Linked DNA regions of Homo sapiens: regions 2 and 3 are each reported to be linked to region 1. Evidence: microRNA targets listed by miRTarBase, many of them from high-throughput screens and not tested one by one. Region 1 holds a microRNA gene; each other region holds the end of a gene's coding sequence.
The links. The annotated mature microRNA hsa-miR-6792-3p reads CUCCUCCACAGCCCCUGCUCAU and lies in region 1 at 4,514-4,535, opposite strand. An mRNA with a match to its seed (bases 2 to 7 or 8) in the 3' UTR can be bound and repressed. Matches are read on the target gene's strand: a 7mer-m8 pairs with bases 2 to 8, a 7mer-A1 pairs with bases 2 to 7 and ends in A, and an 8mer does both.

Region 1 (7,309 bases):
TTAGGTGGCCCCTAACGACCTCAGTTTAACTTAGTGATCTCATCTTCAAACGAATCTACTTTCTGAGGTACTGGGGGTTAAGATTTGAGCATATGAATGTTTTGAGGGGGGCACAGTTCATTCCATAGCAGGCACAGAATCCTACTTCCACGTGCACCCATGACTCATGGGGAGGGTGTTGGTGCCAGTGTGTGCGGGCTCTCCCTGCCCCGCTGCTCAGGAGACGGGTTGTGGGGTCCAGGGGGTGGGTTGCGTGTCCGTGGGAAGGCCATGTCCCGCGGCCGGAGCAGTCATGTTTGAGTGTGTGTTTCTATGGATCGTGTGGGCATTATACAGATACACAAATGGGGAGGTCGTACATGCATACGCGTGCTACTGCCTGCCCCTCTGTCAGGGGGTGCGGCCTTCTCCCTGGGGACAGGCAGCCAGCGTCAGCGGAGCTGGGGAGCCACCCACCTTCACCCATCATGTCACCTCCTATGGGGCCAGACTGTGCTTAGCAGGTCCCATTGCACCCCTGTTCTTGGGGTTCTCACAGAGGGAGACAGTGCAGAGGACAGACCCCCACAACTGCCATTAGGGACAGGGAGGCGTGGACAGGGAAGGGCCCCAAGGGAGTTCCTGGCAGGCTCCCTACAGACGCCACCCAAGGACATCCCGGGTGCCTGGTGGTCTCTATCTGCAGACTCTCACATGTGACTCTCCCTCTGGTAACAGGCGTACGAGCGCGGCATCTCGCTGTTCAAGTGGCCCAACGTGTCCGACATCTGGAGCACCTACCTGACCAAATTCATTGCCCGCTATGGGGGCCGCAAGCTGGAGCGGGCACGGGACCTGTTTGAACAGGCTCTGGACGGCTGCCCCCCAAAATATGCCAAGAGTGAGGCGGGCAGAGGGCATGGGGGGGGTGGCGGGCGGGCTGGGTTTCTGACTGGCCCCGGCTGACCGTGCTCCCCTCTCCCCGCCTACCCCGCCCAGCCTTGTACCTGCTGTACGCACAGCTGGAGGAGGAGTGGGGCCTGGCCCGGCATGCCATGGCCGTGTACGAGCGTGCCACCAGGGCCGTGGAGCCCGCCCAGCAGTATGACATGTTCAACATCTACATCAAGCGGGCGGCCGAGATCTATGGGGTCACCCACACCCGCGGCATCTACCAGAAGGCCATTGAGGTACCCACCGTGGGGGGCTGGGCCGGGGCCAGAGGTCCCTGAGCAGACGGAAGGGGTCCAGGCAGGTGGGAGGGGCTGAGGAGGAGCCTTCTGGAAGCACAGGGATGGCCATGGTGTGTTGGGAGCCCCCGAGCTACCCCGGCCTCACTCCCGGCCTCCCCAACCCCGGTGTCCAGGTGCTGTCGGACGAGCACGCGCGTGAGATGTGCCTGCGGTTTGCAGACATGGAGTGCAAGCTCGGGGAGATTGACCGCGCCCGGGCCATCTACAGCTTCTGCTCCCAGATCTGTGACCCCCGGGTAGGGCTGTGGGGAGGGACGGGTATCAGGGTTGGGGGCTGCGGCGGAGTCAGCCAGCTCACGGGCACACACACCCACCCCTGCCCTGCCCCCCACGCAGACGACCGGCGCGTTCTGGCAGACGTGGAAGGACTTTGAGGTCCGGCATGGCAATGAGGACACCATCAAGGAAATGCTGCGTATCCGGCGCAGCGTGCAGGCCACGTACAACACGCAGGTCAACTTCATGGCCTCGCAGATGCTCAAGGTCTCGGGCAGTGCCACGGGCACCGGTGAGCCGTCCCAGCTGGCTGAGTTCCTGATCCAGGGCATCTCAGCCCGGCCTGACCTGGGCTTTCCGGGTCTGGGAGCCTCGGATCCTGATGGCAATCTCCTTGAGGGCTGGGCCATCACCTGGGGGACTGGGATAGTGCAACGTCCGATGTGTGGGAGGGGCCCCCGTGGCGCTGACCCCCTGCTCCCACCCCCTAGTGTCTGACCTGGCCCCTGGGCAGAGTGGCATGGACGACATGAAGCTGCTGGAACAGCGGGCAGAGCAGCTGGCGGCTGAGGCGGAGCGTGACCAGCCCTTGCGCGCCCAGAGCAAGATCCTGTTCGTGAGGTGAGGGCGGATCCTTGGACGGGACAGGACTGGGACAGGTCCCAAGGGGGCCCGGGGTGGGGAACTGAGGCAGCATGGCCCGTCCCTAGGAGTGACGCCTCCCGGGAGGAGCTGGCAGAGCTGGCACAGCAGGTCAACCCCGAGGAGATCCAGCTGGGCGAGGACGAGGACGAGGACGAGATGGACCTGGAGCCCAACGGTGAGGGCCCGGCTGGGGCGGGGACGGTGGCATTACCAGGGTGGGCCTCGGGGGACAGGCCAACGCCAGGAGGGTGACTGGCTCCCGCCTTCCCCACAGAGGTTCGGCTGGAGCAGCAGAGCGTGCCAGCCGCAGTGTTTGGGAGCCTGAAGGAAGACTGACCCGTCCCTCCCCCATCCCCCCTCCCCACCCCCTCCCCAATACAGCTACGTTTGTACATCATGGTCTGAGCCTCCTTCCTGCTGCCCAGGTGCCCGAGGGAGTACAGCTCAGGAGTGCCTGGCCCTGGGCCGGGATTGGCTGCTGTGGGAGGTGGGGCGGCTGGGCCCCAGGCCAGATACTGCCCGGCCTCACCCCGCAGAGCCAGTTCTGGACTCGAGAGGCCAGTCCCTCCGCTGCCTGGGGCCTTGGAGTGGGTCCTGCCCGGAAACTTCCTTGAGCCTCTGTAGCCTGGGAAGGGCAATCCAGCCCCTGGCTGCCCAGGTCTCGCCAGCCCCTGCCTCTCAGAGCCCTTCTGTGGCCCCAGGCAGCTGCCGCCTCCCTGGGGTGGCACCCACTGTCTGTTCCCCACTAGGGACTGGCCCTTGCCCTCAAGTCTTGGAGTCAGGCAGGCTCTGGCCCAGCTCTGGGAACTGATTAGTAACGCGTTTCTGTGCCTGGACGGGGGCCAGGCGCCAGACCTTGTGCACGGCCCAGGACCAGGGCGTGGTCCTTAGTCCTAAGCCTGGGAAGCCATTAGCGGGCTGTAGGCTATTAAGGGGTTTTAAGTATCAAGGGATATAATCAGATTTGTGCTTCGAACGGGTCACACAGGCTGCTGTGTGGGCAGGAGGCAGCTGGGGACATGGGGAGGCCCAGGCCATTGGCTTGGACTTTGCAGGGAGGTGACAGGGCTGGAGAGAAGCGAGTGAGACAGGAGGGGAGGGCTGAGCTGTGTAGAACTGGGCGGCAGCTGGGAAGCCAGTGCCAGCCTGGGTTGCAGGGCAGGCCTTGCATCTGAGAGAGACACCCAGGCAATGGCAGGGGGCAACTGGATTGTCAAACACAGATCTCAGAGAAACCTGGAATCACTGGCCCAGAGGTAGATGCCAGGCCTGGAAACACCAGGCTGGCCAGGGGAGACAAGATCAAGTTAGAAGTTGGCCCCATGCCAAACGCTGGTTAGGGCCAGTAACAACAGCCACACAGACCAGGAGAATCCAGCAAGCGGGGGTGGCCAAGGCCACAGGAAGGGCCAGTGGGACACCTCGAGCCTGAGAGATCAGTTCAGAGGCAGCTTCGAAACAGCCCTGGCTGGGGGCTGGGAGTGCCCTGGCTGAAGCTGCATTAGGGGATTATGGGGGTTGAAGACAGGAGTTGGTTTGAGAAAGAACAGGAGACTAAAAACACAGCCAGGGAGTGTGGGACCCCGGCCAGCCTCGGAGGGGGGGACAAGGTTCAACTTCTCTTTAAATTATTTTATTCAAGAAGTGGGGGAGGACAGACAAGGGGACTGAGCTGAGCCCTGAGTCCCTGAACCTCCCAGCTCAGCCCCCACAGCAGGACTGGACTCAAAGTCAGAGGGTGGAGACTCCAGCCCCACCCAGACACGGTTGGGGACAGACAGGACCCAGGAATACCGACTGACTGTCCTCCAGGGGATGGCGGCCGCAGCACACAGGGCCCGGCCCGTGGACCGCCCGGGTGGGGCTATTTGGGGGTGCCGCCGCCCTTCTTGGGAGTGGTGGGTTTCTTGCCCTGCCAGAGGTGTCCCTGGATGGTGAAGGCATCGACGCTCATGGACATGGTCTTGGCGGGGATCTGGGTGAAGCGCTTGCGGTCCGAGTTGTACTTGTAGATGCCTTCCACCATGGCGGGCGTGACGGTCCGGGGCCCATACCCTGCCAGCCGCGACAGCTCCTCTGTCTCCCCCGACAGCGTGTAGAGCGCCCGGAACTGGCAGCTCGAGTCGCGAAAGAGGATCAGGAAGTGGTTGGCCTTGCTTTTCTCAATTTCCTGGGCAGGAGTGCTGGAAATGGTCAGCTGGCCAAGTCAGGCCACCCACCCACCCACCAGCCCCCAACTCCCACGTGTGGGCGGGCTCACCTCCAGAATGCGATTCTTCTGCGGTTCGTTCACCTTGCCCGCCAGGCAGCAGTGTGATAGGGCATTGTGGATGATGAACTTGTTGGACTTGGCGCTGGGTTCTTTGTACAGCCGTGGACCTAGAGGGTGAGGCAGTGGGAGGGGGTGGGGGGCAGCAGGAATGAGCAGGGGCTGTGGAGGAGGGTGCCTGTTGCTCCTCACATCACCCAGAGCCCCTGCTTACCTGTGTACTCGGGCACTGACGCTGGGGAGGAGGCATTGCTGCCATTTTCCCAGTCCCGTTCGCGGCTTCCAGGCAGGCGGCTTGGGGACATGAGACCTGACGGGGAGGGAGCCCTGCAGTGGGAGAAGGATGGGATGGAGGTGGGGTCAGGATGGGATGGAGGTGGGGTCAGAGATGGGAAGCTTCCCTATGTGCAGAGGGGCCAAGGAAAATAAGGGCCACGGCTGGGCATCGTGGCTCATGCCTGTAATCCCAGCACTTCGGGAGGCCAAAGCGGGCAGATCACTTGAGGTCGGGAGTTCGAGGCCAGCCTGGCCAACATGGTGAAACACCGTCTCTACAGGCACGGGTAACCCCAGCTACTCAGGAGGCTGAGGCACGAGAATCACTTGCACCCAGGGGGCGGAGGTTGCCGTGAGCCAAGATTGCGCCACTGCACTCCAGCCTGGGCGACACAGCAAGACTCCCTCTCAAAAAAACAAAAAAAAAAAAAAAAAAAAAAAAGGCGGGCCACACACACTGCAGAGGAGGCGGTATACACTGCACACCCTCCCAAGTCCATGCAGTGCCCCGTGCTGTCCTCCTCCCACAGGAACACCTGGCACTCAAGTGCACTGAGGCACATGCTTGAGTCCTGTCTGCCAGGTACAGACTATGCCCCATGCACACGTGCCCACACGCGTCCCTCCATCTCTTCATGGCGTATCCATAAACTCGAGCCATACCGCCCTCTAGGTTCACCCAGATGCCCACACACCTCCCAGGCTCTGGGAAGCCACCCGGCATACGAACCCCGCCTGTGCGGGCTAAACTCACCGAGACGTGGGCCTCTTCACCCCGAGGTTATTGTGGGCCTCGTTGGCCACAGTGGACAGTGACAGGGTGGACTGGGAATAGATTTTGCTCAGCCGAGAGCCTGGGGACAGAGATTGCAGGTCAGTGCCCACCAGAAGCCCCTGCCCTCCACAACACCCGGTCCAGCAGGCTGTGGGGGGAACACAGGAGGAGTCAGTCCTGCCCAAGACCCCTCGGCCCTCTGCAGCACCCCTATGGGGGGACCCCTCTATGAGGGAGGATGCTTTGCCCAGCAGGCAAGTGGGGAGCAGCACTGGGTCAGCCCCTACTGGCAACGCCTCACCCCAAACATACTCCCAAAGGTTCCTATCCATGAAGCCACAGAAGAAAGACCCCTCATCCCACTGCACCCCACATCCCTATGGAAGTCTTTTTTTTTTTTTTTTGTCTTATTTCTGAGACGGAGTCTCGCTCTGTTGCCCAGGCTGGAGTACAGTGGTGCAATCTTGGCTCACCGCAACCTCCACCTCCCAGGCTCAAGCGATTCTCCTGCCTCAGTCTCCCAAGTAGCTGGGACTACAGGCATGCCATATGCCCGGCTAATTTTTGTATTTTTAATAGAGATGGGCTTTCACCATGTTGGCCAGGCTGGTCTCAAACTCCTGACCTCAGGTGATCCGCCCGCCTCAGCCTCCCAAAGTGCTGGGATTACAGGCGTGAGCCACCGCGCCCGGCCCCCTATGGAAGTCTTTACCCAAGAGACAGTGTCCAACCCCACCTGAGGCCCCCTGTCACCCCACATACCCGCCCCCTCCCGGCACCCCTGCTTACATCTCCCTCCCCCTCCCCCCTTACCCATGGGGGCCTCACCCAGTGAGCCCCGGAAAGGGCACTGGGCAGGCCCCGTCCCCCAAGGGTCCTCACCCAGCAGGCCGCGGGCTGGGCTTCGTGCCAGGGCTGAGTCGTCACAGCAACCCGAGCGAGGCCGGGTGGCCCTCCGCCCGCCCCGACCTGGACCCCCGGACCCCGCAGCCCGGGGCCGCAGCACCTTATCGAGGTCGTCCATCAGCTTCAGCTGGGCCCGGCGCTCGTACTCCTGCCGCGTGAAGTCCCCCTTCCGGGGGCCCACCTCCTCCTCGGCTGGAGCCCGGGCAGCAGGGGCTGGAGTCGCCATCGGGACTGCGGACACAAGCGGGGCTGGGCCCGGGGCCTCCTCTTGGGCCAGCCTGCAGATCACAGGGAATCGGCATCAGAACCGCTCACGGGGTCCGCGGTGGCAGACAGGCCAAGGAGCGGGCGTCCCGGGCAGGCCCGGCCTCACCTCGCGGCCTCCTCCCTCCGCTGTTCCTTCTCCACCTCCTGCCACTGCTTGCGCCGCCGCGCCTCCTCTGCTCGCCGCTGCTGCCGCTCCAGCAGGCTGGCCCGCTTTTGGGCCATCTCGTCCTCAGGCTTGTCTTCATCCTGGGGACAGACGCCGAGTCCAGCCAGCCACCCCCTCCCCCAACATGGCTGGAGGCCCATCTTCCCTCCACCCAGCCTGCCCGCCACCCACCTGTGCTTTTGTTTTCATCATTGTTCTAAATGCACTTAGTTGGTGCCTACTGTATGCACAGCCCCACACTAAGTACTGGGACACAACAGGGATGGGATACACTGGGTGCCGCTCACACACACACTGCTTAACCCAACGGGGAAGACAAAAGCAGCAGACAGCAGTGAGTGCCAGCAAAAGCTCGTGTTGGGCACAGACACTCTACACTGCGGGAGGACCCCGGCCTGGCCTGGAGACACCCAGGAAGGCTTCCCAGAGGAAGTACCCTGTAGAATGATCAGGATTTAACTAGGTGGGCGTACAGAGCAGAGCGTTCCAGGCAGAGGGGACAGCTAGTGCCGAGGCCCTGAGGCTGGAGCAAACCTACTGGGGGGCACGGAAGTACA
Region 2 (7,309 bases), not on the chromosome of region 1:
TTCAGAGACCAACACATGGGGTTGGGGTGGTTATGTGCTTATGGGAGTGTGTTAGAATCATCAAGAGATCAAGTAACTGTTAGGGAATAATTCTTGCTAATACTAAAAACCAAAGAAGACCAGAAATTATTTGAGGACTGGTGCTGATGGGAAATTTCAAAATTCACCGAGAATCAGGCTGAATGACCCATGTTGAAACAGAGTCTGGAGCTTAGTAATATTTAGTAATATTTGGCTTAGTAATGTTTGGCTGTAAGAGGGTGATGAAGGGGAGCCAAAATGGAGAGCATAACCCATCTCATCCCAGAAAGCTTAGTTGGAAGAGGCACTTGGAGAATCTGGCTTTCCTCTGTTTCTGAGACACTGAGTAGGATTAAAAAGGGGACTTCCTTCTCTGCCTTGAGAAGGCTCAGCTCCTGATCCATTTCTCCCACAGGAAGGGCTATGTCTCACTGGAGGACTATACTGCTTTCCTGATTGACAAGGAGTCAGAAAACATCAAGTCCAGTGATGAAATAGAGAATGCCTTCCAAGCCCTGGCAGAGGGCAAGTCATATATTACCAAAGAAGACATGAAGCAGGTCCGATTCTGGTTGCTTCCCCTACTACACTGTCATCCTAATTTGAATTCTGGTCATCTCAGGCCCGGTGGCCTACTTTGAAAAAACCCACCCACTTGTTTTTTTTTTTCAGACCTCCCCTTTCACAAGATGTCATTTGCTTTGGTAACCACTTCATTTTGTCTTGACCCAACTCAAAAACGTACTGTGGTACTCTATTGAATGTGAGAGTCAATTCAAAATCTGCAACTCAGTTTTTAAGGCTATTTCTTTTTTTTTTCCTCATTAATTCAAAGAGCATTTATTGAATGCTTACTATGTTCCAGGCATGAGGAGTGCAAACTTTAGTAAGACACAGTCCCTAAATTCAGGTGTAGTGGGGAAGACAGAACTTTACAAGTTAAAAACACTGTAACAGAAGCAAACACATCTGTCATGGGAACAAAGATGTGGGGAATTTTATTACAACCAGAAGTAATCTCTCTTCTCTCTGATTCCAAGAGCTTTCTTCATTCCTCTCCTTAAAATACTTGCATCAGGGAAAGTATCATCTATGATTAACACAGGGTGAGTGTTGAAGGACGTGCAGGAACTCATCAAGTCATCAAAGGAAAGCCTAAGTGTTTCAGGCAAAGGCAAGTGTGTGTGCAAAGGAACTTGAGAAAACAGATTTTCCTAATACCTAAAGCATAAGGTAAGAAGATAGTAACAGAAAGTGAAAGGGAAAACAATTAAGCAGAAACCAGATTACAAAGGGTCACATACATGATGGTATCGTTTTGCACAAACTCATCCAATTGTCTAAACTCATCAAACTGTACACATTAAAGGTGCAATTCTTTATCAATCATACCTCGACAAAGCTGTTACAAAAAGAAAATGATGTGGTCTTCCAGACACTATCTGGAGCCACCCACCCACACGCTAACTTATTGGAGTCTTTAGGGATCCACTTGGTAATCAAACAGCACAGTGAATAGAGGAACTCTTTGGCATAAGAGGATCATAGGTTCAAGTCCCAGCTCTACCACTTTCTGGCAGTGTAACCACTGGTGAGTTATTCTACCTTCTTGAGTATTTTACCTTACTCATAAAACATGCTAGTCCCCACATCTCAAAGCAGCCAGGAAGATGAAATAGATCAAGTGGTCAACAAATGTTGTTAGGCATATAATTCCTTCTATTTAATAAAACAACTTTAGGGAATGAGATTTACAGAATAATCAAAGTGAGTAAGCTCTCTTTTTCAAGAAAGGGCTGAGATTAAAAGTTAAGTTACTCATTAGAAATTATAAATTTATGAGATAAAAATTGTGTGTAATAGAAATAGGGCTTGCGTCTTCCAGAGACTCTCCATCTCCTGCATTTATGGCGTAATATGGGAAGCCCCAAGGAACCAGCTATTTTGAATCCCTATAACTGTATTTTTCTCTTTTTATACTTTTCAGGCCCTTACCCCAGAGCAAGTGTCATTCTGTGCCACACATATGCAGCAATATATGGACCCACGGGGTCGAAGCCATCTCTCTGGCTATGACTACGTTGGCTTCACCAATTCCTACTTTGGCAACTAATAAGCAGCTCCTCGTGGATCGTAGAAAATCTTAGTGTCGTGGGAAATTTACTGGGGGGCAAAGAGTACAGGCAAATGTGGAAGATAAAGATGGCCTCGTGTGTGTGTGTGTGTGTGTGTGTGTGTGTGTGTGCTTGTGTTTGTGTGCATATTACATTTATTGTAGGATCTTAAAAAATCTCAAGGGTGGGAGATAGAAAGGTTAATAGAGTTGGAGGAGTGGAAGCTATTTTGTATGCAACTAGTCACTGCTGAGGGGTGTCAAAGTTTCTATTTTTATTTGTTCTGTTTTGCACGTCTTTATCATTTTGCTTTATTCCGATTATAGAATAAAGTAATTCTTTTTAAAAATATTTTTTGGGGCAAAGTTAAGTAAAATGTTGAGCTTCTATATTTCTGGGAACTGTACTCATATAAGAGTGGGCAGCTAATTTTACTGTAAAGAAGGGCCATGGTATAGTAGATAAATAAAATCCAAGGCAATTTTCAAACAATTTTTTTAAACTTTGGAATGTGTTTAAATTTAAATTTGAAAATAAAGATATTTGATTTTCTGGGGAACATGAATATTTTAGTTTGTACAATGAAACAACACACAGATCAGCATAACACCTGTTTTCTTCTTGTTTTTTTTCCATACTTCAAAATTATTGTAGATGTTATTACTCTCAGAAAGACAAAATTCCAGCATAGCAGGGCTTTCTCTTGTCCTCCAAGCTCCCGTATTTTCTCTTAAGTTTTAATGTAATAAAAATAATACTTCAATATCCTGTTAAAGTAACAGTTAATAGAATTATTTATAAAATTAAGAATTAATTTTAAAAAAAGAAGAGGTGATGCTATCTTCAAAAATTTTCAGGCCAGGTTTATTCTGAACAGGTTTATATGCCGACATTCTGATTTGATCTATAAAAGGTAATGGTGTCATTTGCTGGTGAGAATTCTTAGATATCTTAATTGCTGTGTATAAAACTGCTAGCGTTCTGCACAAATAGTCCCCACTTACCAATCCATTCATGTTGCCACTTGATTACCATCTTAAGTCTCAGTCCCTTCCTCTGCATAGAAATGAATCTGTGCAGGACAAATCCTGTCATAGGAGCCTTTTTTAAACAAAAAGTTGGTTAAAGCTAAAAAGTTATCATTGATACTAACAACATACAGGTATTTTAGTGATTCTTTTCTTAAATAGTCAAATACTATGGAATATAACAAGCAGAAAGTATTTTCAAAATTAATGTTCACAAATGTCTAAATTGCCTGATTATAAGTTACCAAAAATAGTACAGTTAGAAAAGATATAGGCCATCGAAAATTAGCATTGTTTAATATCACACTTACCACATATGGATAGTCTAAAACTATTTGTGCTGAAAATAATCACAAGCAAAGGTGGATGTGATTCCATTCCCCCAATGCTAACCCTGCCAAAAATTTTCAAGGCCTAAATCAAATTATTAGTCATTTAGTGGGTCAAATGTGTGTACCTGGAAGAAGAGTTTGCCCTTTCTAAGCGCGTAGTCACATACTTAATCAAGAGAGGAAATTTGAATCACCAAACGAGATTTTGAAGACTATTATGTTGTCCCTATCCCAAATCAATTGTTTCAAGGTAGAAACAAATTAGATAGATTCCAAAAACACCTATTTGGAAAAATCCCTCCAAGTGATTTTATACCCTTCCATACTTAAGACTACTACATGTGGAAGTTAGACCTCTAAGTATTACTTAGCAATACTTGAAACATCCTTACTAACCATTCGTCACTGTGCATTTAGTCAATGTTATGCTGGGCAGACTGAATGAACTGGTGAAATGAATTTGCTCACATGGCCTCAGTGCAATGAGGCATTACTTCTTCCAATATTGAGAACTTCAGAGTAGATGGCCTTTCTCCCCTGATGAGGCCCTTTTGGCTATCTGACTAACTCATCTACTTGTCTTCATCCTGTTCTCTTCTCTGAGCTCTAGCTTCCTTCCTCTCAAATTGTTTTCATCAAATTCCAATTAGAGGATGTATTTCTTTCCTGAAAGCATGAAAAAATATGGATTTCTGTCTGAAAAATATCTTCTCGGCCTAAGGTCTTTCCTTGTCTCTCAAGCCATGCCCCACTTCTATCTCACTGCCAAATCCTGTGAATTCTACCTTCTCAAAATCTCATGTTTGTGATTTCCTTCAGTCTCTGAATGTCACTATCCATATTCAAGCCTCTTTGCCTTTTTTTAAGCTGATATCCATGGGTTTCTTGCTGATCTCCTTGCCTCTGGTTTCTCTCTACTGAAATCTATCATCCCCTTTGCTGCTGGATTAATCTTCCTGAATCCCTTCCCAGATGCCTCTCTCTGTTCAACGTTTTACTGTGCCTTATCTCCTATAGACAAAAGGACCATGTCTGAAGCAAGGTATTCAAATTATTTCAACAAGTAAGTCATGACTCAAACTAACTTCTCAGCATCATTTGTGAGTTGTTTCCAGCCCCTCTGAATAACTCACACACATTAAACTAGGCTTATATTGTCTTACCATCAAGCCTTTGGCTATTACATTCTCTCTTCTGAGAATGTACTTTCTCCCCAGTCAGTGCATTCAAAGCTCACCCATCCTTTAGGAACAAGTTCAGATACTATTTAAGACATGAAGTCTTCTCTGATCCTCCACCTAGAGTAAACTCTACCTAAACTAAAAGCCAATATCTTTTTCCTTCACACATTTTAATAGTAGCAACTGGAATTTATTGGACGATCGCTATGATCCAAGGGTTGTGCTAAATTCTTTGTATGCATGATCCTGTTTAGTCACCAACCATTGTAAAGATAAGACTCGGAAGCTGAAAAAAATGTTAAATAACTTACCTAGAGTCACACAGCTAGTAAGTTGAAGAGTTTGGATTCAAACTCCTGCCTGACGGTCTTGTGAGTTCATTACACTTTCTCTAATAATGTCCGCCGCTATATATAACCACATTATATGTGGAAAGTGGAATAGGCAGAATAGATAGTTCTGCAATAGATTCAAAAGAACAGTATCCAATTTGATAAGCGACCCAAATGAGAAAGGTCTTTGACACTCAAGATTCTGAAGCTACCAGGGAACATTAACAGTTATAAAAAAAAATAGGAAGTAAATATATTTTCTGAAATAGAGTGCACCCAGCTTGGAAAATCAATCAAAACAAAAAGGGCAAAGTAACAGAGTCAGAGATAGTGAGGACAACTATATAAAAAGATGATTCCATGTTTTTGCTACTGTCAATAGCACAATGAGGAATGTATAAGCACATGTGCCCCACTGTATATGAAATAATAGTTGAAATTAAAAAAAATAAAAACATAAAAAGATGAAAGACACCCAGTGGGAGTAAAAATGACCCACCTGTTCATTTAACAAAGCTTTAAACTAACCTGTCAAGCTGATATTCCCCAGGTTTCAAATCTTGGAAGAACATTACAGGTCAAATAGTCTAATTATGTAATGATTTTAGAAATCTCTACAGTATCCCTGATGGGCTCCAGCCAGCCCTGCCTTGAACTTGAACACTCCAAACTTCCCTCATTTTGTTCAGCTCAATTAAAAAATTCTTGATTATCTTAATTAAATTTTTAATTCTCAATGGGTTTCAGTAACTAGGGGTGGCATCTAGGAGGCTGAAAGTTAAAATTCAGATTTTGGGCTCATTTTGAGTTGTGCACAGTGAGCAGAGCAGGAAGCCCCGCCTCTGCATTCCAAGCAGTCAGGGGGAAGGGCAAGAGGCAGGATAAGGCTTTCCCAGAAGATTGGGGGTAGGACAGCTTTGGCCTGAGGCCTTGAATACCTGGCCCTTTGGCTTGGGTTCTTGGTCTATGCCCAGCCTACACAGAAGAAAGTGTCCTATTGGGGTAACCTTCATCCTTTACCCAGCAATCTCCCTCTGAAAGCATTCCTCAGAGCTGTCTGTATAGCCCTATTCCTTAGACTATAAACAATGGGATTAAGGAGGGGGGTCACTACAGTATAGGTCATGGCAATAAGCTGATCTCTCTCAAGAGAGTAGCTGGCTTTGGGCCTCAGGTACACGAAGGAAGCACAGCCATAATGAATAATGACCACTGTAAGGTGCGAGGCACAAGTGGAGAAGGCCTTCTTCTGCCCCTCAGCAGAGGGGATCCTCAGTATTGCTGCCAAGATGTAGGCGTAGGAGATGGTGATGAAGAAGAAGGAGACCAAGAGGACCAAAAGACTGAGGATAAAGATCCTCAGCTCACTCGGGCCTGTATCTCCACAGGCTAGGCTCAGCACAGGTGGCGTGTCACAAAAAAAGTGCTGGATTTCATGGGAGCTGCAGAATGAGAGGTGGAAAATAACTAGTGTCATTCCCAGTCCAAAGAGGTATCCAGTCAGGAAGGAAGTAATGACCAGCTGGGCACAGAGGGTAGGATTCATGTGGCTGGCATAGTGGAGTGGAGCACAGATGGCCACATATCTGTCAAAGCCCATGGCAGCCAGAAGGAAGCAGTTAGTACAGGCCCATGAGGCAGAAAAGAACATCTGGGCAGCACAGCCCACATAGGAGATAGCCTGGTCCCCCCCAGCCAGGCCAGAGAGCATTCTAGGGATGATGCCCAAAGTGTAGCAGGTCTCAGAGAAGGATAGGAAGGAAAGGAAGAGGTACATGGGGGTGTGCAGATGGCTATCCAGCCTGATGGCTATGATAATGAAGACATTGCTGGTCAGAGTGACTAGATACAGAGAGAGGAACAAGGCAAAGAGAAGGAGCTGCAACTCCCCAGAACTGGAGAAGCCCAGGAAGACAAAATCCCTCCAGGAGGTTACGTTGGTCTGCCCCATTCTGAGAGGTATATCCCTGATAGATTTGTTGATTTCTTCCACCTTGCCAGTAGATGCCTAACTTCTTTAAAAGGTGGATGATATGGATTCTTTTTCTCTTGTTCCTGTTGCAACTTAAAAAGGCAGCTCTGATTTAGACTCTACTCAAACTTCAAAAAAGTATTTGTTAAATTAGACACAAATGTATGGGTCCATTCCCATATGACTGTATGTACATATACACATACACAGATGCACAATCACAGACATTCATATGCACATACTTGCACACAAACATATGTATGACTACATACATGCAGGTGTATATATGCTTTATAGCATTCACACATAATTATGCATATCTTACACAT
Region 3 (7,309 bases), not on the chromosome of region 1:
TCAAGAGGAATTTCTGAGATCTCCTTCACCAGGCTGGGGGCTATAACCTGCTACTCTCACCTCAGAAAGCTAAAGCAGAGACACATTGGACATAAACTGATCCATCTTTCTAAAGACATCGCTTCAACCAATCTTCTTATTTTTTTCCTCCCCACACTTCCTTGCTTTGGTTGATTAACCTGGGTTCTTAGAGTCAAGGAAACAAGCAATTCTCTCTATTTCTTGTATAAATCCACCCATGGCACCTCACTTGGGAAGTTAAAATCTAGGAATTTTAGTTGTAACCTGATGCTGAAGGTGTTCTATGAAAATGAAGTATTACACATAAGACTCAGAGAAGGACTTTCTCAAGGTCACAAAGCCAGTAAAGGACAAAGCTAAGACCAAGTCTTCTGTCTTGCTATATTTTCTGCATGCACAGCCTATTACTATATTTGACCAACATATATCACCTGATCACTTGTTTTGTCTTTCACTTTGTTCCCTGAGCCACCTCCATTAATCAGGATCCCCTTTGAATGGCAGCATTAGAATGGCCACTACCTTTCTTGGGTTGATTGAGTACATCTTATCTTATAAAGCTGTCTTGATAATTTTGCTTTTCTTCATACTCTTTCCTTGACATATTTATCAAAACACCATTTAAGCCAAGCATTCTGTTGATGGACTAGTTACATTTCAGACACTTGAATTATTAATGATTTGTAGAATGGTTTCTTCACCTGTTCCTTAAGGTTTACATGAAGCCCCTGAAATCATATGCAAAGTTTTGTACATATGACCATTATTCTGGGGAGAGTACATAGCTTCCATCATATTATTAAAAATATCTGTAACCCCTAAAGGTTTGGGGTAAGAATATGGTAACAATACAGTAAGAAACAGAGAGAAACCTCAAGTGCCCCAGAGTGTATCTGTTTTTCAGGCTCTCTCTCTCCATAAAATTGCTCTGCTGCTCTGATAATTCTACCTTTTACTCTGAGACTCTTAATTTCTAATATGCATGGTTCACCAAATCACATCTGCTAAACTTACCTCTCACTCTGGCTCCAACTCTAGGAAATCATGGCAATAAAAATCAAGAACTAGAACTTGTTAATGTAGGAGAGAGTTTTTCTCACAGGGCATGCATATGGAGTACTCTAATGGGAACTTGCCAAACAATCGGGGGTGGTGAGATGACAGTATTGTAAGTTAAGAGAAGCAAGAACTAAAACTAAGAAAAAAATTATCTCTCAATATCTGGTAGAGGAAGGGTGTGAGGTTTCTTAGTGTGGTATTGATGGAGGACTTTACGGATCAATGGAGCTTGAAAAGAACTTGCAGAGGGCTGGGTTAAGAAATGGTAGAACAGAAAGTCATATGTATTGCAGGACATGTTAGGGGATGAGGTGGAGGGGATGAGGTGGACAGGGCCCAGTGGCTCTCAGACTCTAGGGCATCAGCTAACAGACTGAGTTCTAAGTGCATCATTATGCCCATAGTCCAGTGATTCTCTTTCTGTCCACAGCTAATACCTCCAGGACACTTCTAGAGGATAAGGTGAGTTTCATTTCCCCACAGTTTTATCTCCACCATTACCTGCAGCCTCACACTCCCTCTCGGTTTCCACTTCTTTCTTCCATTTCAGGATGTCTCAGTTGTCTACTCTGAGGTAAAGACACAACACCCAGATAACTCAGCTGGAAAGATCAGCTCTAAGGATGAAGAAAGTTAAGAGAATGAAAAGTTACGAGAACGTCCTACTCATGTGATTTCTCCCTTGTCCAAAGTCCCAGGCCCAGTGCAGTCCTTGCGGCCCCTGGAATGATCAACTCATTCCAGCTTTCTAATTCTTCTCATGCATATGCATTCACTCCCAGGAATACTCATTCGTCTACTCTGATGTTGGGATGGAATGGCCTCTGAAAGACTTCACTAAAATGACCAGGATCCACAGTTAAGAGAAGACCCTGTAGTATTTGCTGTGGGCCTGACCTAATGTATTCCCTAGGGTCTGCTTTAGAGAAGGGGGATAAAGAGAGAGAAGGACTGTTATGAAAAACAGAAGCACAAATTTTGGTGAATTGGGATTTGCAGAGATGAAAAAGACTGGGTGACCTGGATCTCTGCTTAATACATCTACAACCATTGTCTCACTGGAGACTCACTTGCATCAGTTTGTTTAACTGTGAGTGGCTGCACAGGCACTGTGCAAACAATGAAAAGCCCCTTCACTTCTGCCTGCACAGCTTACACTGTCAGGATTCAGTTGCAGATTAAAGAACCCATCTGGAATGGTTTACAGAGAGAGGAATTTAAAAGAGGACATCAGAAGAGCTGGAGATGCAAGCTCTAGGCTGCGCTTCCAAAAGCAAATGATAATTATGTTAATGTCATTAGTGACAAAGATTTGCAACATTAGAGAAAAGAGACACAAATATAAAATTAAAAACTTAAGTACCAACTCTCCAAAACTAAATTTGAACTTAAAATATTAGTATAAACTCATAATAAACTCTGCCTTTAAAAAAAGATAAATATTTCCTACGTCTGTTCACTGAAATAATTACCAACCCCTTAGCAATAAGCACTCCTTGCAGAGAGGTTTTATTCTCTAAATACCATTCCCTTCTCAAAGGAAATAAGGTTGCTTTTCTTGTAGGAACTGTGTCTTTGAGTTACTAATTAGTTTATATGAGAATAATTCTTGCAATAAATGAAGAAGGAATAAAAGAAATAGGAAGCCACAAATTTGTATGGATATTTCATGATACACCTACTGGTTAAATAATTGACAAAAACCAGCAGCCAAATATTAGAGGTCTCCTGATGGAAGTGTACAATACCACCTACAAATTATCCATGCCCCAAGTGTTAAAACTGAATCCATTCAAGTCTTTCTAACTGAATACTTGTTTTATAGAAAATGCATGGAGAAAAGGAATTTGTTTAAATAACATTATGGGATTGCAACCAGCAAAACATAAACTGAGAAAAAGTTCTATAGGGCAAATCACCTGGCTTCTATAACAAATAAATGGGAAAAAAATGAAATAAAAAGAAGAGAGGGAGGAAGAAAGGGAGAGAGAAGAAAAGAAAAATGAAGAAAAGTAATTAGAATATTTTCAACATAAAGAAAAGACGAATATTTAAGGTGACAGATATCCCAACTACGCTGATTTGATCTTTACAAATTATATGAGTGTATGAATTTGTCACATGTATCACCCCCAAAAAAAGAGAAAAAGAAAAATAGAAGACATATAAATTAAATGAGACGAGACATGTCGACCAAAAGGAATGTGTGGGTCTTGTTTGGATCCTGACTCAAATTAAGAAAAAATAAAACTACCTACGAAATACTAAGAAAAATTTGTATACTAATATTAAGAAATTGTTGTGTGTTTTGGATATAAGTGATAGTTTATTGTAGTGATGTTTTTATAAAAGCAAAAGGATATTCACTTTCAGCGCTTATACTGAAGTATTAGATTAAAGCTTATTAACGTAAATTCGGCGTACATGAAATTAGTAGATGAAATGATGTGATTTGGTTTGAAATAACCCGATGAGGTGAGGGTGGGTAGGAAGTGGGTAGGTATAGATGTAGCAGGATCAGTCATATGTGCACCATTTCTGGAGCTGAGTGAAGGGTACATTATGGGAAGAAGAGGAGGCTTATACTATTCTTTACTTTTGCAAGTTTTAATTTTCCATAATAAAGAGTTAAAATATCTACACCCAGAAGACCACCTCGTTATACCACTCCATTATTCTACTCTTGTCTGAGGTGCTGCTCACTTCCGTTACAGTGGTGGCTTCGTGTCTCCCTTCTTTTTCCCTTTCGTCCCCACAGCCCATTCTCAGCACTGCGGTCACTGTGCTCAAAACCCTGCAGTGCCTCCCCATCTCTCTTACAGTGAAAGCCAGATGCCCTAAGTGCCCACAAGCCTCCACCTGATCGCTCCCATTGCCTCCAGTCTTCTGCCATTCTTCCCCTTAGCACTTCACTGAGGAAGCGCTGCCTTCTGCACTGCTTCTTGCACACATCAGGTAAATGCCTGTTTGAGGCCTTTGCATGGGCTGCTCTCTGCTTAGAATGCTCTTCCTCCCTGATATCCACCAAGGCTTTGAGGTCTGCCCTGGTGACTCAAGGCTTTGAGGCACATGTAAATCTGGAAACTACTTCCCCCCATCTTTGGCACCTCCAGTCTCCATTACCCTGATTTGCTTTCTTTCCATAGCGCTTATCACTTTCAAACATACTTTGAAACAAACGTTGCCGATTTACTACACTTACTGCATATCATCTCTCTAAAAACTAGATTTCTTAAGGGCAACAAACTGTGTTCTCTTTGTTCATTGATATACCCCAAGTACCTAGAACTCTGCCTGGTACATAGTAGGTGTTTAATCGATATTTTTGAATGAATGAATCAACTATTTCAGTAAGGAAAATCATTGCCCTCTCCATGATGGAAAGGATCCAATGCAAATAATCCACAACCACAGAGTACACAGGCCCCTGAGGAGCTGACTCCATCAGAGGCTCAGGTTTGGCCTCTGTGTATGTCAATTGGGCACTTAGCAGTGGTCAGACTGGCCTGGGTGAGTACATCCTTATGTTACTGAATCCTTCCATAAACTCTGCACCTTCCACCAAGGCCGCTTCATTAATGAGCCCTTTGAGCAATTGCTGGAGTAACTGGAGAAAGAGGCTGCCTGACATTCAGCCAGAGCAGATGATCACAGCCTCCTGATTCCTGAGATCTTCCTCAGTAAGGCCTTGGGTGAGTATTCTCATAAGACACAAATATTCTCATACTCTGGATCCATTCAAAGAGGTCCAACAATATGATTCTTGCCTAATCTTGCAGTTTTATTCTTTCCAAATTCCTGACCATACAGCTCCAAACACTAGCCACTGCTCATGAATCAGAGTAAAGCCTCACCTCTGGACATCTCATCTTCCAGTCAAAGTGGACCACTGGGAATACCCATCTCTGTCACAATCCTCCAGGGATTCCTGAATGTGGTTGAGGTGCTGCAATTGTCACCCTCAGCTGATGTGAGGGCATATTTAAACCAGGATAGACTGTTTTTTCCTCCTCTGTCAGTTGGTCATAGGGAACTCACCACCAGGTCATAGTTGCTGGTTGAAACAGAGAGGTAAAAGAGCAGCAGAATATGAGCTATTCATTGTTTATTCAACTTACCATTGCTTTCAGACCATTCTGGAGTGAGACCTCCTGCAAATCACTTCCACTTAATGATGGAATAATCCTCAATATATTATGAATTTTTGCTTTGTGGATCAGACAGCTTCCAGTTCATGGGGAACAGCTCAGGTCTCTGGTGGGCCATGTTCAAGTGTTCAGTGAAAAAGAAAAGTTACTTGAAGAGAACATAGTTTTGCTCCAAAATTTTATGGTTCTCAACTGTGATTCTCCTGTAGAGCCTTGCTGTAGCCTTTACACAACATTCTGACCAGCCATGACAGTTTTGGGCTCTTTGGATATGCTGGATCCTAAAAGCTAAGGTCAGTGCTGCTTGCACTGTAGCTTAGACAAGCTAAAGACCCCTTGCTTGCTCAGGGGTCCACTCAAGGATGATAGGTTTGTGAGTTATCCAGTTATTGAGTCAGAACAAGCAACCAAATGTGACATCTGTTGCTTCCAAGATCCAGAGGCCTGTCAAATGTTGGGCTTCTTCCTTAAAAGAATAGAAGCAACAATTTAATATACTATCCCAACATGTTGCAGACACCCGATTGCACAATAAATCCCCAAAAAGGAAGAATTAGATTTAATAGAATTTCTTTAATTATTAATTTTAACAGCAGAAATCTGTATATTTTGCTAAGAATAGTAGACCAAGGATAGAGGAATATAATTCTGTTTGAGGCTAAATGAATTGGTACAGATACACTTGGAAGAGACTCTCGACTCAGTGGACTAGATCAAGCAGCTGGGAGTGATTCTAATTAGTTTCTCTCTTGGTAGATCAAAATCTGTAGGCAACAATGGCCTTGGAAAAATAAAGTTGAGATAATAACAAGTCCTTGGTATAACGTAGGGGAAGAATTCAAAGATTTATAGAGATGGGATTGTGGCAGTGGATATATCGATATATCACACATGTTCCATTCACATGTACCCTATATCTCTTAAAAGGGTATTTCCACAGAACGTTGAAAAATACATTAGTGATAAAAGTATCAGCACCTTTGGAAAGTATAACAGAAATAGGTCAAGGACAAAGGTGAAGACATTGCCTCACAAGTAGGCTCCCTGATAATGATGGAGTCTCAGAGTAGCAGAGACAAAAGAAGGCATGGCTACAATAATGAGAAAATGGTAATGACAATACTATGACTGAAAACAACTTTGCGGCCAGGAGCGGTGGCTCATGCCTGTAATCCCAGCGCTTTGGGAGGCCGAGGTGGGCGGATCACAAGGTCAGCAGATCGAGACAATCCTGGCTAACACGGTGAAACCCCGTCTCTACTAAAAAATACAAAAAATTGTTGTAGTTCCAGCTACTGGGGAGGCTGAGGCAGGAGAATGGCGTGAACCCGGGAGGCAGAGCTTGTAGTGAGCCAAGATCGTGCCACTGCACTCCAGCCTGGGTGACAGAGCGAGACTCCTTCTCAAAAAAAAAAAAAGAAAAGAACTTTGGGTCATGGGAACAAAATAGGTGAGCAGACCATACGCACACAAATGAAAGTAAACTGGAAGCCTGCTTGGAATCATAGAAGAGAATCATATTCACCCATTTTTGTGCCAGTTGCTGTACCAGTCAGGGTTCAGTGGCAGACAACAGAGTCCACCCTAACTAATTTATGAAGAAAGGAATTTGTTTAGGGTATTAGTGGAAAGACTAGAGAGTAAGGCTCTAGGCTGAGCCTGTAGGAACAACTTCCAGAAGCAAACTGCCAAATTGGCATAACAAGAGGGCAGCCACTGTCACCACAGCTGACTCAAGATCCATGGGGCCTCTGCTGCTACTGCAAAAGTTCTCAAGTCAGAAAGCTGCATAACTGCCACTCGGTACTACAAGATTAGACTGACCAAAGGCCATAGCTCAGAAGAAGCAAAATATCCACTTGCATCACCCAGCTTCCAAAAGAGCCACACAGTTATGACTTCAGTAGATTCAAGCTCACTTCTGAGTCTTCTAGGTGGTCTGTTTAGTGGAAAAGAGGCTATATGCAAAGACCCTTGCTTTACCCTTCTACTTCCTATTGAACAAGAAGTCACAAGAAGTCACTCTAGAAAGAGCTTAAATTGCAATTAAACAGTTACTCTTCAGTATCTACCACCATGTT

Region 2: the mRNA of SPTA1 is a reported target of hsa-miR-6792-3p. Seed matches in the 3' UTR shown: 7mer-m8 at 2,346-2,352.
Region 3: the mRNA of FCRL4 is a reported target of hsa-miR-6792-3p. Seed matches in the 3' UTR shown: 7mer-A1 at 3,051-3,057.

The regions. Positions count from the first base shown.
Region 1 is chr19:7,614,706-7,622,014 of GRCh38, reverse strand. It overlaps MIR6792 (microRNA 6792), which reads right to left and starts at 4,576; the gene lies at 4,510-4,576. CAMSAP3 (calmodulin regulated spectrin associated protein family member 3) reads right to left here. Exons shown (of 17, transcript NM_020902.2): 12 at 6,693-6,832; 13 at 6,296-6,597; 14 at 5,393-5,492; 15 at 4,577-4,689; 16 at 4,354-4,472; 17 at 3,711-4,263. The coding sequence ends at 3,958. It overlaps XAB2 (XPA binding protein 2), which reads left to right. Exons shown (of 19, transcript NM_020196.3): 13 at 718-880; 14 at 979-1,169; 15 at 1,346-1,468; 16 at 1,569-1,740; 17 at 1,940-2,069; 18 at 2,159-2,268; 19 at 2,368-2,490. The coding sequence ends at 2,429.
Region 2 is chr1:158,606,089-158,613,397 of GRCh38, reverse strand. It overlaps SPTA1 (spectrin alpha, erythrocytic 1), which reads left to right. Exons shown (of 52, transcript NM_003126.4): 51 at 437-581; 52 at 2,009-2,694. The coding sequence ends at 2,134. It overlaps OR10Z1 (olfactory receptor family 10 subfamily Z member 1), which reads right to left. Exons shown (of 2, transcript NM_001004478.2): 2 at 884-7,072. The coding sequence starts at 6,959. The coding sequence ends at 6,018. Among named protein-coding and RNA genes, the nearest start is that of OR10Z1, 4.5 kb to the right of the region's middle.
Region 3 is chr1:157,569,932-157,577,240 of GRCh38, reverse strand. It overlaps FCRL4 (Fc receptor like 4), which reads left to right. Exons shown (of 12, transcript NM_031282.3): 11 at 1,511-1,542; 12 at 1,631-3,494. The coding sequence ends at 1,717. Among named protein-coding and RNA genes, the nearest start is that of FCRL5, 21 kb to the right of the region's middle.